2 separate regions of the Homo sapiens genome follow, and region 2 is linked to region 1. A link means that fine-mapping ties the variant in region 1 to the expression of a gene that starts in the linked region. Tissue or cell type: whole blood. Region 1 holds a variant in brackets; the other region holds the start of a gene. All regions are shown on one strand. Distances are between the middles of the regions.

What was found. PIP is the estimated chance that this variant, and not a neighbour inherited with it, causes the effect.
Region 2: KLHDC4 starts here. The variant in region 1 is fine-mapped to the expression of KLHDC4 in whole blood (TOPMed, PIP above 0.99). The same link has a PIP of 0.9 or more in blood mononuclear cells.

What each region holds. Positions count from the first base shown.
Region 1 is chr16:87,709,998-87,718,097 of GRCh38, forward strand. It overlaps KLHDC4 (kelch domain containing 4), which reads right to left. Exons shown (of 12, transcript NM_017566.4): 8 at 4,501-4,576; 9 at 1,238-1,446. Among named protein-coding and RNA genes, the nearest start is that of KLHDC4, 52 kb to the right of the region's middle. RefSeq lists a silencer at 6,778-6,966. The variant T/C (reference allele first, on the strand shown) is at 3,601.
Region 2 is chr16:87,762,980-87,771,079 of GRCh38, forward strand. KLHDC4 (kelch domain containing 4) reads right to left here and starts at 3,007. Exons shown (of 12, transcript NM_017566.4): 1 at 2,813-3,007. The coding sequence starts at 2,911. It overlaps LOC105371399 (a long non-coding RNA gene), which reads left to right and starts at 3,062. Exons shown (of 3, transcript XR_933871.3): 1 at 3,062-3,362. It overlaps LOC102724467 (a long non-coding RNA gene), which reads right to left. Exons shown (of 4, transcript NR_120309.1): 4 at 3,352-3,445. RefSeq lists enhancers at 2,295-2,919, 2,903-2,962, 3,043-3,102.

The DNA of each region.
Region 1 (8,100 bases):
CGACGCTCACCCTGGGAAAACCCAATCACCCACAGTGCTGGCTCCCAGAAGGGCTGGGGAAGCCAGGCTGAGGGGCTTCCTCCCCTTTCCCAAGCAAGACAGACGGTCAGGCCCACAAGCCCAGCTCATTTACTACAAACGGCGAGCCAGAGAGGGGCCCTTCCTCACCAAACGTTTTTAAAGGGGAGCTCTCAGGTCAGGCTGCCTCCTGCAGGACAGCTGTCCATCCCTCTCTGTCCCACTTCCCTGGCTGCGTCGCAGGGGTCAGTCTGGACCCTTCTGTCACAGCCTTTGTCATTTTGTCACAAAACGCTGCCAGCTCACGAGGTGACATTTGCCAGGTTATTTCCAAATTTTCCAAGGATCACTACCTCCAGATCAACCCAAAGTCAGCTTCACATTCTAGACTTCTAAGATCCACTTTGTGTCTGGACTCTGCAACAGTGAGTTTCAAAAGGGAAAGCTCTCTGAGGTCCTCCGTAATCCTGGGGAATGTCAACGGCCCTGAGATCACAGTGTGAGAACCGTGACACTAGCTGGGGTCAACACGCTCTCTGAAGAAAAGCCACAGGGGAAACCTGTGTAGACTCTGCTTGGAGCAATTCCTTCTAAAGTAAAAGAGCGAGGCGGACTGTGGGTCCAGAAACGAACCCGCGTGTTTTTCCAATTTCCAGCCCAGGTGCCACCACACGTCAAAAGCAGCTTCAGGAGTTTGCAACCAACAGCGACCAGCCCTCCTTGGCCCTTTCTGGGTCCGGCTGACCTGGTACACTCAGAGACCCTGAGGCCAACTGGGGGATCCCCTTCTGGGACTGTCACCCACTGCTGTGCCTGTGCTGGGCTGGCCCTGGACAGCAGCTATGCTCACGTGGACAGTAAAGATGGTGTCGGAAACCAGGGAAGCTCAAGGGTCATAACACAGGCTGGTCCACACCAGGACCTCCAGCAAACCCTTCTCACACAGAGGGCCGGGGAGGTCCCGGGCACCTCAGCCCAGGGCAACTGGCTTCTGAGGTAGCAGCCCCGCCAGCATCCAGGACAGACTAAGGGGACCGTGACCAAGGGCTCTCCAAGCCTAGTCACCCAGGACAGTCAGAGACGGAACCCTCGCCCCTCTTGAGAGAGCTCATGGGCTTTGGGGGCCCCAATACCAAAAGGTGCTGGAGGAAGGCAGTGGTGGCAGGGACCCAAGTTAGGGCTGCGCACCACGGCGCATGCTACTCAGAGGTTGCACTACCTTCAGCTGTCCCTCAAACCAACGGTTCCTGGTGGCGTCGTAGAAGTACAGATCGTTGAAGAACTCGCCCGACAGGCTCTCCTCCTCTTCCTCGTCACAGACACCCCCGAAGAACAGTGTCTGGTGATTCGGGGCCATGGCCACGGAAAAGCCAGACCGTGGGGTGGGCTTGACCCCCGAAGGGTTCATCCGAGTCCAAACCCACTTGTCTGTCAAAAGAGAACAAGGAAGTGGGATAAGAACACAAGGAAGGACCCTGAGAGCCAGCCCAGGACACGCTCAGGACCCCAGGTGCCCCCCAGAATGGGGTAAATGAAAACCGTGAGACTGTGGGCAAAAACTCTGCTCCCTCTGCAGAAAAACAGACACCATTCAACTCCCCTCGAGTTCCACCCTTTTCCTTAAGAGAGCTGGCATTCAACAGCTTTCCACACACCCCCAAGCACCTCTAAACTAGGGGCAGCTACAAGCCGCAGTGGAAAGGCAGGGATTGGGCAGAAGCAGCACACACGCTAGACACACAGAGGGGCTTCTGTGGGGAGGCTGCCCTGCACAGGGACCCTCCGCCCGGCACGGGGACCCTTCGCCCAGGGGGCTGAGTGGCCTGCACCAGCCCCCCTTGGGCCTGCACGGGGACCCTCCACCCTGCACGGGGAACCTTCACCCAGGGGGCTGAATGCCTGTGCCAGCCCCCCTTGGGCCTGCACGGGGACCCTCCGCCCTGCAAGGGGACCCTTCGCCCAGGGGGCTGAATGCCTGTGCCAGCCGCCCTTGGGCCTGCACGGGGACCCTCCGCCCTGCACAGGGACCCTTCGCCCGGGGGCTGCAGTGTGGCCAGCGAGGAGCCTTCGCCTGGGGTCTGAGTGCCTGCACCAGCCCCACCTTGGGCTGCAGTGTGGCCAGCTCTACTTCAGGAAGGGTCTATGTTCTCTCTTGGCACGCGCCTATGTGATGTGCCAACCCTCAAACAGAGCCCAATGTGCAGATGTCTCCCCACCACTTCTAGGAGACAGAATGGAGATTTTTTTCCTCCAATGAACATTTAAAAAAAAAAACAGAAGCAGCAAATGGACGTATTCTGTGTGGTGCTAGACGTCACCCGCCCATGCCCAGTGTGGGCGTGGCTCTGGGGCCCCCGCCTCATTCCCACCAGCACATGACTGTGTGAAGGAACAGGGAAGACCACCACAAGAACTCGCCACACAGGGCAGGACCCTCTCCGGTGACAGAAACCCACACACACAAGGTGTGTCGCTCCTCACCACGATGCTTTCCTCCTGGGGGCTGACGAGCAGAGCACACAGGCTCAGGGCCGCCCTGCGGGAAACAGTCCAGCATCCAGGTTCAAGTTCACTGGGGTGTAGGCTGGAAAGTGACTGAAAGAAGGCGTCTGTCCTATCAGCCAGGGTGCAGTAAGGCAGGGCCCTGGGAGAGGCACCTGGGCCTTTTGACAGGCAAATGGGTGTGGACTCAGATTAACCCTTCGGGTATTTCTGAGGCCTCAGCATGAGGAATTTTAGTGCAAGAAGGAGGTAAAAACACTTTGCACAATGGTCCCCTCTCCTGGGGAGGCTGGAGAACTTGCTGTGGGTCACAAAAGCAGACCTGGCCTAGGCATTGGGTCTCCTGGGTCTAGCCCAGCCCTCTGGTCCCAAGCCACAGCCTCCCATAAGAGAGCTGTCCCCTGGTTTCCTAACGGCACTGGGGACGCTAAACTCCACGGCAAACACCCTTGATCTGTGCCTCCTGGCATCACTCTCTTGCTCTGGAGCAGAACAAATGCCATTGTCTCCTTCTATTTATTTTTTATTTTTTGAGACAGAGTCTCACTCTGTTGCCTAGGCTGGAGTGCAGTGGCACGATCTCAGCTGACGGCAGCCTCCACCTCCTGGGCTAGAACAATCCTCCCACCTCAGCGTCCCCAGTAGCTAGAACTACAGACGTGCGCCAGCACACCTGGCTACATATTTTTTTTGTTTTTTTGAGACAGAGTCTCGCTCTGTCGCCCAGGCTGGAGTGCGGTGGTGCAATCTCGGCTCACTGCAAGCTCCACCTCCGAGGTTCACGCCATTCTCCTGCCTCAGCCTCCCGAGTAGCTGGAACTACAGGCACACACGCCAGCACACCTGGCTACGTTTTTTTTTTAAGAGATGGTGTGTCACTATGTTGCCCAGGCTGGTTTCAAACTCTTGGCCTCAAGCAATCCTCCCACCTCAGCCTCCCAAAGTGCTGGGATTATAGGTATGAGCCACTGCGCCCAGCCAGTAACAAATGCAATTTTTTTCAAAATCAAGAAATTAATGATTGAAAAGTAGCAGGCCACCCCCATCCCCCCGCCCATGCTCCACACAGGCACGGCTTCT[T/C]CCGCTTCAGAGGTCTGTGAGAACTGACGGGCAGCCACTGGCAGGAAACGCCGCCAACAGTTCATCTCAGCACATGACCCACGCCCAGGAACATGAAACGTGCCATGTGTAGAAGGTGGTGAGAGTGGCTGACACATCCTGGGCCCTCTGGGTGCCAGAGCCATGTAAAGGGCTGTCCCCTAGGTCATCCCATGTCATCCTTTTAAAAAGTCCCAGAGAATGATGATTGTTCCCCTGTGCTTTAGTAAGAAAATTTTGATTCTTAGATCCCAGTTTAGCTAAAAGCTTTTAGAAATCTAGGCATTCTAACAGCCCCGAGTTCAGTAACTCAAGCTGACAGAGGCCACGGCCGTTCTTGGAGGCCGTCCCTGTGAGGGCCAATAGCAGTCTCGGTGATGACTTCTGAAGTTCTGTGCATGAGCAACACCGACCCCTGGCTGGGAAGCCCACACCCAGCCTGCCCAGCTGCTGCCCGCAACCACCCCAAGAGCGAGGCCCGTCACCACAGTGCCAGGCAGCCCCAGTGACTCCTGGTGGCTTGTACTCAAGGCCCAGGATGGTTCTCCCTTCGAGAGCTCAAGACCCTTGGAGGGGCCCATCAGGAGCTGCTGAGGGGCACTGTGCTCACTGCTCCACAGAGGGCTGTCTGCAGGGTAACAGCGCCCGTGCTTCTCAGTCAGTCCATCATCAATGCCCCCAAAGGTGATTGCCCAGCAGACACCAGGGCTATGGAGCCTGTCCCACCCGGCCCACCCCGAAATGAGCCATCTCGGCAGGCCCTCCGCTCCGGGCAGGGTGCAGGGGCTCACCGCCAGCCCCACATCCATGGGAGGGTGTGGGCTCTGCCTCCCGCCACACACAGACCAGCCAGCTCCCGCCCTGGAGGCACAGCACCTCTACCTTCTCTTCCGTCCTCTGGCTTCAGCAGGAACATGTCTGAGTGCCGTGTGCCCTTGTCCACGTCTTTCTTAACTCTCTGCAATGGAAAGGAATTGTGTGAGAACCGGGGGCAGCTACAGTGGTTGCTTACAGACCCCCCAACCCTGTGGGCGCATTTTGGATGGAAGGGGCTGGAGGCCTTCCCTGTAGACCAGCCCCAAAGCTCCAAAGCGTGCCTGCAGTGTGCTCAGGGCTGGCACCACCTGACAGGCTTTATCCCCCAAATGGGTCCATCTGAAGAGGCCACCTTTCTAATGGCCGCGATCACACAGTACACTAGAGTTCCTGTCGGGGCACGCACAGCTTCCACAGCAGCCCTGGTCTGTGTGGAAACCACCACAGGGGCCTCTGATACCATTACAGAGTCACTCTTTGTTCCTGATCCCGGTGGATCCCCACCGCCTTCCAAATAACACGACTCAGGCTTCACAGCAGAAATCAAGTTACTACTGTGTGCAGAGGGCAGGCACTGCCCACTGAAAGACTTCTCCAAGCTTCGAAAACAACGCGCTCCATGTCCCTTAGCCCTTAGTCTTCTGCCTCAAGTGAGCCTCAGCTGGACCAGGTGCACTGTTCCCCAGCACCCATGCCCTACAAGTCCTGGTGCCACACCCATTACCTGGGACCTAAGGTTGTGAGGGAGATAGCCAGCAAAACGCTCACCCTGGGTGGAGGGCCCCCATCCATTTCCATCTCATCTTTGTATTTGTTTGCACTTTAATTCTCTATTTTTAATACACTATTTTAGAAGTTTTGTATTTGCAGAAAATTGAGACGATAGTACCGAGAGCTCTCACACGCCCACACCAATGTCCTCCCAGCATGAATACCTTCCTCTCCTTGGCGCCCTTGTGACGGATCAGGAACCGGCACTGACCCGTTACCGGGAGCGTGGCCCACACTTCATTCACTGCCCCAGTGCTCCGCAGCTCATCCTGCCCAGGGATCCCGTCGAGGGTCCCACTGGCCGTTTCGTCCTGTCGCCTCCTCAGGTTCCTCTGGGCCCTGAGCTTCTCCGACTCTCCTTGTCTCTGAGGACCATGATAGCTGTGTGGATGGCTCAGGAGTTTTATAGAGTGCCCCTCTACTGGGACTGTCTGCTGTCTTTCTCATTAGACTGGGGTTATGAATCATTAGGACGATCCCCGGGGTGAAGTGCCCATCTCATCACATCCCATCAAGGGTCCACACCATCAACAGGACTCATCACAGTGGATGCTGACATCGACCGCCTGGCTGAGGTCGTGTCTGACAGTTTCTCTTCAGCTCTATGTTCTCACAGATATTGACACAGACTTCGGCCACGCTACTGTGGTCGCAGGGGTAGTGACACAGACTTCAGGCATGCTCTGTGCCTCATGGATACTGACACAGACTTCAGGCACGCTCAGTGCCTCGTGGATATTGACACAGGCTTTGGGCACGCTCTGTGTCTCATGGATATTGACAGACTTTGGGCACATTCTAAGGTCTTGTGGATATTTATGCAGACTTTGGGTAGGCTCTATGTCTCGTAGATATTGACACAGACTTCAGGTACGCTCTATGTCTCGTGGATACTGACGTAGACTTTGGGTACACACTATGGTCTTGTGGATATTTATGTAGACTTTGGGTACGCGCTATGTCTCGTGGATATTGACGTAGACTTTGGGTACACGCTATGGTCTTGTGGATATTGACGTAGACTTTGGGTACGCGCTATGTCTCGTGGATACTGACATAGACTTTGGGTACACGCTATGGTCTTGTAGATATTGACGTAGACTTTGGGTACACGCTATGGTCTTGTGGATATTGACGTAGACTCTGGGTACGCGCTATGTCTCGTGGATACTGACGCAGAGTTCGGCTATGCTCTATCACTACCCATCTTTGTTGCTCGGGTTGTTCAACGACACACAGCTGCCACTAGGAGCCTTTACAGCTACTCTTGGGTCCCTGTGACTTGCACCATCTTTGTGGGTTCCTTTGAGCACCTCCTTAGGCTCTGGCACCACAAGATGCTCAATTCCTCCTATATACTCCCTGCTCGGCCCTACGATTCGCCATTTCTCAAGGGAGCCCTGGTTCCCTTTGTTGGAGAATAGTGTTAGAAACCAAGAAACCAGGGGCCGGGCACGGTGGCTTACACCTGTAATCCCAGCACTTCAGGAGGCCGAGGGGGGTAGACCATGAGGTCAGGAGATCAAGACTAATCCTGGCTAACACGATGAAACCCCATCTCTACGAAAAATACAAAAAAATTAGCCAGGCACAGTGGCAGGCGCCTGTAGTCCCAGCTACTGGGGAGGCTGAGGCAGGAGAATGGCATGAACCCAGGAGGCGGAGCTTGCAGTGAGCCGAGATCTCGCCACTGCACTCCAGCCTGGGCGACAGAGCGAGACTCCGTCTCAAAAAAAAGAAAAGAAAAGAAACTAAGATACCAAGATTTGCTGTAATCCCAGCACTTTGAGAGTCCAAGGTGGGCAGACTGCTTGAGTTCAGGAGTTCAAGACCAGCCTGGGCAATGGCAAAAACCCATCTCTCCCAAAAAATATGAAAATCAGCCAGGCATGGTGGCATGCATCTGTAGTCTCAGCTACTCCCAACGCTGAGGTGGGAGGACTACTTGAGCCTGAAAGGCAGAGGCTGCAGTGAGCCAAGATCATGCCACTGCACTCCAGCCTGGACGACAGAGTGAGACTTCTCAAAAATTAAAAAAATTAAAGAGACCAAGATTTGGGCAATGGATGTGTAAACTGCTACCGGGTAGTATTGTTTCTAGGCCGTCCCATCTGGTAGAGCAAGGAAATATTTGTTTATGGTTATTTTTCTTATAGCTAACATGTACTGTATTTACTATAATGGAAAAAAAACATTTTCCTTTTGAAACATGCAAATGATCCACTGTCCACAGAGACTTCATATTTCCACCTGGGCCTGAGTGTCCTAAAACTAAGAGGGCTCCACATTGGCCATATGGAGAGTGACCTGAATCTCAGGAAGTGAAAACTGAGTCTGGGTCTCTTTTGTTCTCCTTCTGGAAACATCTGTGCAATTCCAGTGATGCAGTTTCTGCACATTACAGACAGTGATTGAGACTAGTCTCTTTTTGTAACAGGTTGATAGAAAATGGCTGTCATTTCCATGCCTGCTTTTCCAAACCTAAGGGCCTAGCATTATTGTGAACTGAATTGACACCCAGAGACTTCATCTGCTGGGGGGACAAGGAAGGAATTCAGTGACGTCTCTATTTGTCATCAGAAACTCAAATCGCTGCTTAGCTTCGGCAGGTCTCTGTCTCCTTGTAGTACCCTGCACCTGTCTATATGAACCGTCTTGTTTTGCTGACAGCAACATTGTCTTCTTAGAATTAACAGCCTATGGGGGAATGTTTTATGCTACAATATTTAAGTACTTCCCCTCCAGACCATGCAAGCCAGAGAGGTGGAGCACTTCACAAGGCCTGATCTGCTCACACGGGTCCACAGGTTCCTTCCGGCACACAGCTGGCTGGCCACACCCTCTAACAGGGCCCATGGTTCGACCTCCCCAACAGCTTCTAACTCCTCCTTCTAC
Region 2 (8,100 bases), 53 kb after region 1:
ACGCCAGGTTCCCTCAGCCTGCCACGCCCCACCTCGTGCTTCCTTCAGTCTACCTCTCATCTCAGGGTGAATGTCAGCAGGGTACACTGCTTAGTATTCTAAACGATGCAATATTTAAAACACACAAGTTAACAGAACTTTATCCAAGACATTCCTGTATACGGTTCCCAGGGTAAGGAATAAAGTGTCACCCACATGTACCCACCCACACATTCCCTCAAGTAACCACTATCTGGAACTCGATGCTTATTAGTCTCACGCTTTTCTTCAATCTTTTATTACACATGTGTATCCCTAAGCAACATATAGTATTGTTTTACATTTTTAAATGTCATTAAATGGACTGGGCACAGTGGCTCACGCCTGTAATCCCCGAACTTTGGGAGGCCGAGGCAGGTGGATAATTTGAGGTCAGGAGTTCGAGACCAGCCTGACCAACACGGTGAAACCCCGTCTCTACTAAAAAATACAAAAATTAGCCGGCCACAGTGGCGCACACCTGTAGTCCCAAACTACTCGGGAGGCTGAGGCAGGAGAATTGCTTGAGCCTGGGAGGCAGAGGTTGCAATGAGCTGAGATCATGCCACTGCGACACTTGCTCTGGGTGACAGAGCAGGACTCCATCTCAAAAAAAATAAAAAATAAAATGTCATTAAATGGTATCATACTGTATATTCTTTCAACTTGCTTTTTTTGCTCAACGAGGTTAAACAAACAGTTCAAATACTAACGTCTATGTACCGCGAAAGCTTTGCTGCTGCTACTTAGAGCGGTCTTTGACCTTGGCTGAACCTCATCATCATTGGGTGACTGAAGGAGAGCAAGGTGGTAGGGTCTGGGTGACGCCAGTGGCCTAGCCAGTGACAGCCTCTCCAAAGTGACAATAAGCTGAATGCTGAAAAGACGACTCAGACGGAGTATGGTTGGGGTATAGGTAAGACCACAGACACAACTTGCCATGTTTGAGACACTAAAAGACACTGTGGCTGGAGTGAGCCCAGGGAGACAGCTGGAAAGACAGGCAGAGGCCAGGACTAAGTGAAGGTGCGAACCAGGTGACCTGATACATGAGTTCTGTGGGAGCAGAATTCCAAACTGTCCCCAATCCTTCCCCCAATAATTGCCAGGACTGTGAAAGAATGGGATACCACTCTTGTGATTAGGTTGTATTACAGACACAGCTGAATTTAAGAAAGAGATGATCCTCTGTGGGTCTAGCCTAATCAGACGCCCACTTATTTTAAAAGTTTGTTTTGAGGGTTCATTCAGATAACATACAAACCCCAGGCCTGACAGGCTCTCTCTCTTAAGGGAAGCTACTGTTACAATCACCTTAGTATTGGGTACTGGAGGGAGACATGGAGATGAGTAAAAATGACAGGTAACTGGCGGGGCAAGGTGGCTTACGGCTTGTAATCCCAGCACTTTGGGAGGCCGAGGCGAGCGCATCACCTGAGGTCAGGAGTCCCAGACCAGCCTGACCAAAACGGTGAAACCCGGTCTCTATTAAAAATACAAAATTAGCTGGGTGTGGTGGTGCATGCCTGTAATCTCAGCTACTTGGGAGGCTGAGGCAGGAGAACCACTTGAACCTGGGAGGCGGAGGTGCAGTGAGCTGAGATCGCACCATTGCACTCCACCCTGGGCAACAAGAGTGAAACTCCTTCAAAAAAAAAAAAAAAAAAAAAAAAAAAAAGCAGAAAGCAGCTAACAGCTGGTTACTGAGTGCTTACTTTCTGCCAAGCACCATTCTGAAGATACCACACAGATGAACTGACTTCCTGTGCCACAACCCTAGCCAGCAGGTCATGCCACTGCAGCCCAGCCTAGGTGACAGAGCAAGACTCTGTCAAAAAAAAAAAAAAAAAAAAGAAAGAGCCTAAGAGGAGTGTGAGGGAAAAGTCCAACTCCATTATTTAAGAGATGAGGACATGGAGAGATCAATGACTTAGGAAGAAAAGGGACAAAGGACTGTGGTCAAGAGCTCCTGATTCAGGACATCTGGTCACATCCCAGTTCCATACCACTTCATGGTTCACCTGTTGGTCTTCCTGTCAAATGGGAATACCAGTGCTACGGAACTGACCTGCTCGTGAGGAGTAAAGCCCAGGGAGCTGTGCCTGGCGCACGGCAGGCCATAAAACTGGCCCCGGTTAGGGAATCCATGAGCAGCAGCCGCAGAACACTCAACCCCAAGGTCAGGACGGATCCTCCTGCAGACCCCGGGCTGAGGACCAGAGGGAAGGAGACAACCGTGATGGCCGCCATCAGCTGCTACGGGATACCCCGTGGCTCCAGTGCCTTCTTCACTTAACCATCTGCTGCTCACTGCTCAGGGCTGCTGTGATGATTATTTGCCCTCTTTTGAAAGAAAAGTAAGGTTCAGAAAAGTTAAGAGTCTTACTCCCAGACCACACATCATGCAGAGGCAGCCCCCGGCTCAACCTCAGGTCTTCCTGTGCCAAACCCCTCCCTCTTCTCACCACCCAGCCTCCCTTCAGAGGGAGGGTGGAGGGAGAAGGGAGGAGGGGGAGGAAACGCAGAAAAACGCCCGTGACACCACACTAAGAAAAGCAAGCACGTTAAAGGGGGCAGCTCCGAGAAGCGGACAGACACACGTGGAGACTCAGGAGGGGGCGGGCCCCGTCTGGGCTGCCCGGACGCGGCGCCGGGGCAGTTCCTACGGCCTCCAGCTCTCCCGCAGGGCCGGCGCGGCTCCCACGGCCGACCCGTAACCCCGGGGGGCGCAGGGAGTCGGCCGAGGCTGCACGGCCGCGACGTCGGGCCGCTAAGCCCGGTCTGACCCGCTCACCTCCTCCTTCCGCGAGCGCTTAGACACCTTCTTCTCCATCTTGGCGGCCGTCTTCTCCGCGCCGCGGCCCTTCTTCTCCTTCTTGCCCTTCTTGCCCATCTTGCCGGGTCCCAAGCCGCGACGGGACACCAGGAAAGAAAACGGCCCGCGCTCTCCGCTCGGAAACAGGTGCTCGTGGGGCGGAGCTCGGCGCACAGAAATGGAGTCACTTCCGGCCCCGAGTTCGAGCCGCTTCCGGGTAGAGGTGCGGCTGGGCCCTTTACGAGGTTCGGTCTTGGAGCTCCGTCTTCGGCAGCGGGCTCGGGGGCCTCGGACTCTGCATAAGGCCCCGGAAAAGATGACCGGCCCCGGGCTGGGCGCGGTGGCTCATGCCTGTAACCCTGGAGCTTTGGGAGGCCTTGGCGGGCGGATCGCTTGAGTCCAGGAGTTCGAGATCAGCCTGGGCAACAAAGCGAGACACCACCCCCCACCCCCAGTCGCTACAGAAGAAAAAAAAAAAAATTAACCGGGCGTGGTGTCTCGCGCCCAGTGGTCCTAGCTCCTCGGGAAGGTGAGGCGGGAAGATCGCTTGAGTCAAGGAGTTCCAGGCAGCAATGCGCCCCTGCACCCCAACCTGGGCGACAGAGCGAGATCCTGTTTCAAAAAACAAAAAAGATGGCAGCCCCGGCCTGACATACCCCGGCCATGCTCGCCAATTCTCACGCCCTGTGCCCCCACCTAGCCTGTCCCCGTGTCCTAGGAGACGTGCCCTCTGAGTTTTATTTTTTATTTCTATTTTTTTGAGGCAGGGTCTTGCTCTGTCGCCCAGGCTGGAGTGCGGTAGCGCGATCTCGGCTCGCTGTAACCTCCGCCTCTGGAGTAGCTGGGACCACAGGAGCCCACCACGCCCGGCTCATTTTCTCTTGAGTTTTCCGGGGTGCACGTGCCCCCCGTTAAGGCACATTGCTTCGCCCTGGGTAGAACTAAGTGGGCGACTCTTGGGCTAGCCCCATTTTTTCCCCTCAGACCAAACAAATGAGTGCTTTTTTCCCAGAAAAAAAATTTCACACAGTTATAAGATTTTGCAGATCCTGAGTAAGACAGTCCCTGCCGGGCGCGGTGGCTCACGCCTGTAATCCCAGCACTTTGGGAGGCCGAGGTGAGTGGATCACGAGGTCAGGAGTTCGAGACCAGCCTAGCCAACATGGTGAAACCCCCGTCTCTACTAAAACTACAAAAATTAGCCAGGCGTGGTGGTGGGCACCTGTAATCCCAGCTACTTGGGAGGCTGAGGCAGGAGAATTGCTTGAACCCAGGGGGCAGAGGTTGCAATGAGCTGAGATCAAGCCACTTCACTCCAGCTTGGGCAAAAGAGCAAAATTCCATCTTAAAAAAAAAAAAAAATGGGGGGGCCCTTCCACCTTCCCATTTAAAATGTGCCAGACACTGTTAGGTACTAAGGGCATGTCCTCAAATGTCCTAACATGGAGGACTTTTGTTTCTTCATAGGTAGGCTAGAGCTAATGATAGCACCCTGAAAGGGTACTCAATTTGTGGAGCCTGAGAAATAAAGATAGGTAATATCCAAATGCCTGCTAGGAAATTGTACTCTAGGATTTGCCTCAAATTACGTAAGAAATGGCAAAATCATCTGCAGTGCATGGAATGTTATGATTTGAAAGAGCAGAGTAAAAATGCTTATCACTACTTAGAAGATGTCATCTTTGGATGGGTAATCAAGGAATAAGGCAAATTAAGGACAAGGACAAGCCAAAATTTGGCAAAGGGAAAGCATAAATCAGGAAATAATCTAGTTTATTACTTTGTGTGTGAGTCAGCCTTTAAAAGTTCTCTTAGGCCAGGCGTGGTGGTTCATTCCTGTAATCCCAGCACTTTGGGAGGCTGAAGCGGGCTGATCACGAGGTCAGGAGTTCAAGACCAGCCTGGCCAATATGGTGAAACCCTGTCTCCACTAAAAATACAAAAAAAAAAAAAAAAATTAGCCAGGTGTGGTGGCACCCACCTGTAGTCCCAACTATTCAGGAGGCTGAGGCAAAAGAATCATTTGAACCTAGGCGGCAGAGGTTGCAGTGAGCGGAGATTGCACCACTGCACTCCAGCCTGGGCGACAAAGCAAGACTCCATCTCAAAAAAAAAAAAAAAAAAAGATGTTATCTTAGATCCAGCCAGGTGTGATGGCTCACGCCTGTAATCCTAGCACTTTGAGAGGCAGAGGCAGGCAGATCACCTGAGGTCAGGAGTTTGAGACCAGCCTGATCAACATGGTGAAACCCCATCTCCACTAAAAATACAAAATTAGACAGGCATGGTGGTGCGCACCTGTAATCCCAGCTACTCGGGAGGCTGAGTCAGGAGAATGGCTTGAGCCTGGGAGACAGAGGTTGCAGTGAGCCGAGACTGAACCACTGCACTCCAGCCTGGGCAACAGAGCTAGACTCCGTCTCAAAAAAAAAAAAAAAAAGAAGAAGTTAACTCGGCCAGGCGTAGTGGCTCACATCTGTAATCCCAGCACTTTGGGAGGCCAAGGTGGGCAGATCACGAGGTCAGGAGTTCAAAACCAGCCTGGCCAACATGGTGAAACCCCGTCTCTACAAAAATACAAAAAAATTAGCCAGGTGTGGTGGTGTGCACCTTTAATCCCAGCTACTCAGGAGGCTGAGGTAGGAGAATTGCTTGAACCGGGAGGAAAGGTTGCGGTGAGCCCAGATCACGCCATTGCACTCCAGCCTGGGCAGCAAAAGCGAAACTCTGTCTCAAAAACAAAAAAAGTTACCTTAGATCCAATCAATGACTAGTCACTGAGCAGCTGAGGAGGAATGATTTTCCAACCCACTCCAAGCCTTATCCATAAACCTAGCTCTTTAAGAAGAAAAATGAAATTTGGGGAAATAATGAGAAGAAAAGATAGCACTGGTTGAAGACCACCATGGTCTCCAGCACTGCTTGTAGGAAACCTATGTGGTGGTAGAAAAAAAAAACCGGTTAGGAGCTGAGCAGAAAGGAGCTGGAGAATTTCACAGAAACCCAGCCTGGGCATCCAGGCATGTTTATCTTCCATGACGAACTACAAAAGGCTAAATCCTCACTATTGCCCTCGGGAAATAGTTCTGTCCCCTCTAGTGTACTATGACTTTAAGAACATACGTAATCCTTTAATATTTTTCTAAAAATCCTGGGTAAACCTGAGGCAATGCACTTGAAGCCAAAAGGCTCTTCATTCACAGCACATCTGGCTGCAGTACATTACAGTGGTGCCCACTTCAGGCCGGAGACAGGGAGAGCGTATGACCTATTGAAGATTTAGGAGGATCTGGTGGATGCGGGGTTTAATACTTTTATTATCTGAAAGAAGCTTGAAGCTAAATTAGAAGGCTCTTGGATTATAGGTGTCATGGTGATTTACGTGAGACTGAAATTCTCATACTGAGAAAGACGGAATAGAACATCTAAAATGAGATCAGATCCTAAAATAGTCAAAAGATTAAGTACAAGGCTCTATTTTAGTAAAATTCACATTGTTGAAACTTTCATGGATTATCTTTAATCTGTCGCTGACTTTTAGAGTGTATCTTTTGTGTGATCAGGCGCCCTCTGCTGCCTTCAAGTTGAAGTGCAGAAGAGAAAAAAAATCTATTAATAATAGATTAAATTTTAGGAAAATATGCTAACTTCTAATTATCCTCACCACAAGTAATCAATGTGATTGGAAGGTTCTGCCAAGTGTGGTATGGATTACGTGGCTCTTTGCACGTTTCCCAGCAGGAAAGTGGGAATAATGAACTAGTTCACCTATTACACAGGATTCTTGGGAAAATCAAGTGAAACAATAATAAAGCTTAGGAAAGAGGCCAGGCGCGGTGGCTCACGCCTGTAATCCCAGCACTTTGGGAGGCTGAGGCGGGTGGATCACGAGGTCAGGAGATCAAGACCATCCTGGCTAACACGGTGAAACCCCGTCTCTACTAAAAATACAAAAAATTAGCCGGGCGCGGTGGCGGGCGCCTGTAGTCCCAGTACTCGGGAAGCTGAGGCAGGAGAATGGCGTGAACCCGGGAGGCGGAGCTTGCAGTGAGCCAAGATCGCACCATTGCACTCCAGCCTGGGCGACAGAGTGAGACTCCGTCTCAAAAAATAAAAATTAAAAATAAATAAAATAAAGCTTAGGGAAGTAAAAAAGCAAAACACAAAGGCTTTTTTTTTTTTTTTTTGAGACAGAGTCTCACTCTGTCACCCAGGCTGGAGTGCAGTGGCACTATCTCAGCTCACTGCAACCTCCGGCTCCCAAGTTCTTACCTCAGCCTCCCAGGTAGCTGGGATTACAGGCATCTGCCACCACACCCAGCTAATTTTTGTATGTTTTATAGAGACAAGGTTTCACCATGTAGGCCAAGCTGGTCTCAAACTCCTGACCTCACGTGATCCACCCGACTGGGCATCTTAAAGTGCTGGGATTACAGGCGTGAGCCACCATGCTGGCCTTACTGAATTTTTCCCACTTCTTTGAATCCATTCCAGAGAGAGGAATAATAAGATTTCCAACTATAATCAGGGATTTATCTATGTGTTGCTTATATACAATAAACTGTATATATTTCAAGTGTGCACAGGTGGCTGGGGTGAGGCAGGTGGCTGCTGAGGAGCAAGAGGGATCTACAGTTGTCCCCTGCCCTATGAGAAGGGCCACCCACTCAGGAGGGGCCTCAAGGGATGATGAGAAATGAGTATGGAATTTGTCAGCCTTGAAGTTCCAAATTGGAAACCTGGAAACATGTGTCCCGTCTTCTTCATCAAGATTGTCCAATTTTTTTTCTTTTTTTTTTTTTTTTTTTTTGAGACGGAGTCTCACTCTGTCTCCCAGGCTGGAGGGCAGTGGCGCTATCTCGGCTCACTGCAAGCTCCGCCTTCCGGGTTCACGCCATTCTCCTGCCTCAGCCTTCCAAGTAGTTGGGAAAACAGGCGCCCGCCACCATGCCCGGCTAATTTTTTTTTGTATTTTTAGTAGAGACGGGGTTTCACCATGTTAGCCAGGATGGTCTCGATCTCCTGACCTCGTGATCCGCCCGCCTCAGCCTCCCAAAGTGCTGGGATTACAGATATGAGCCACCGCGCCCGGCCGATTTTCCAGTGTCATAGCATAAAGCAATAAGTGATGTTCTTCTAATTAAAACAATAAATTAAAGTGTAGAATTTAATATGTATTAATACTATCAAGGTCTGGCCAGGCACAGTGGCTCACGCCTGTAATCTCAGCACTTTGGGAGGCCGAGGCAGGCAGATCACAAGATCGG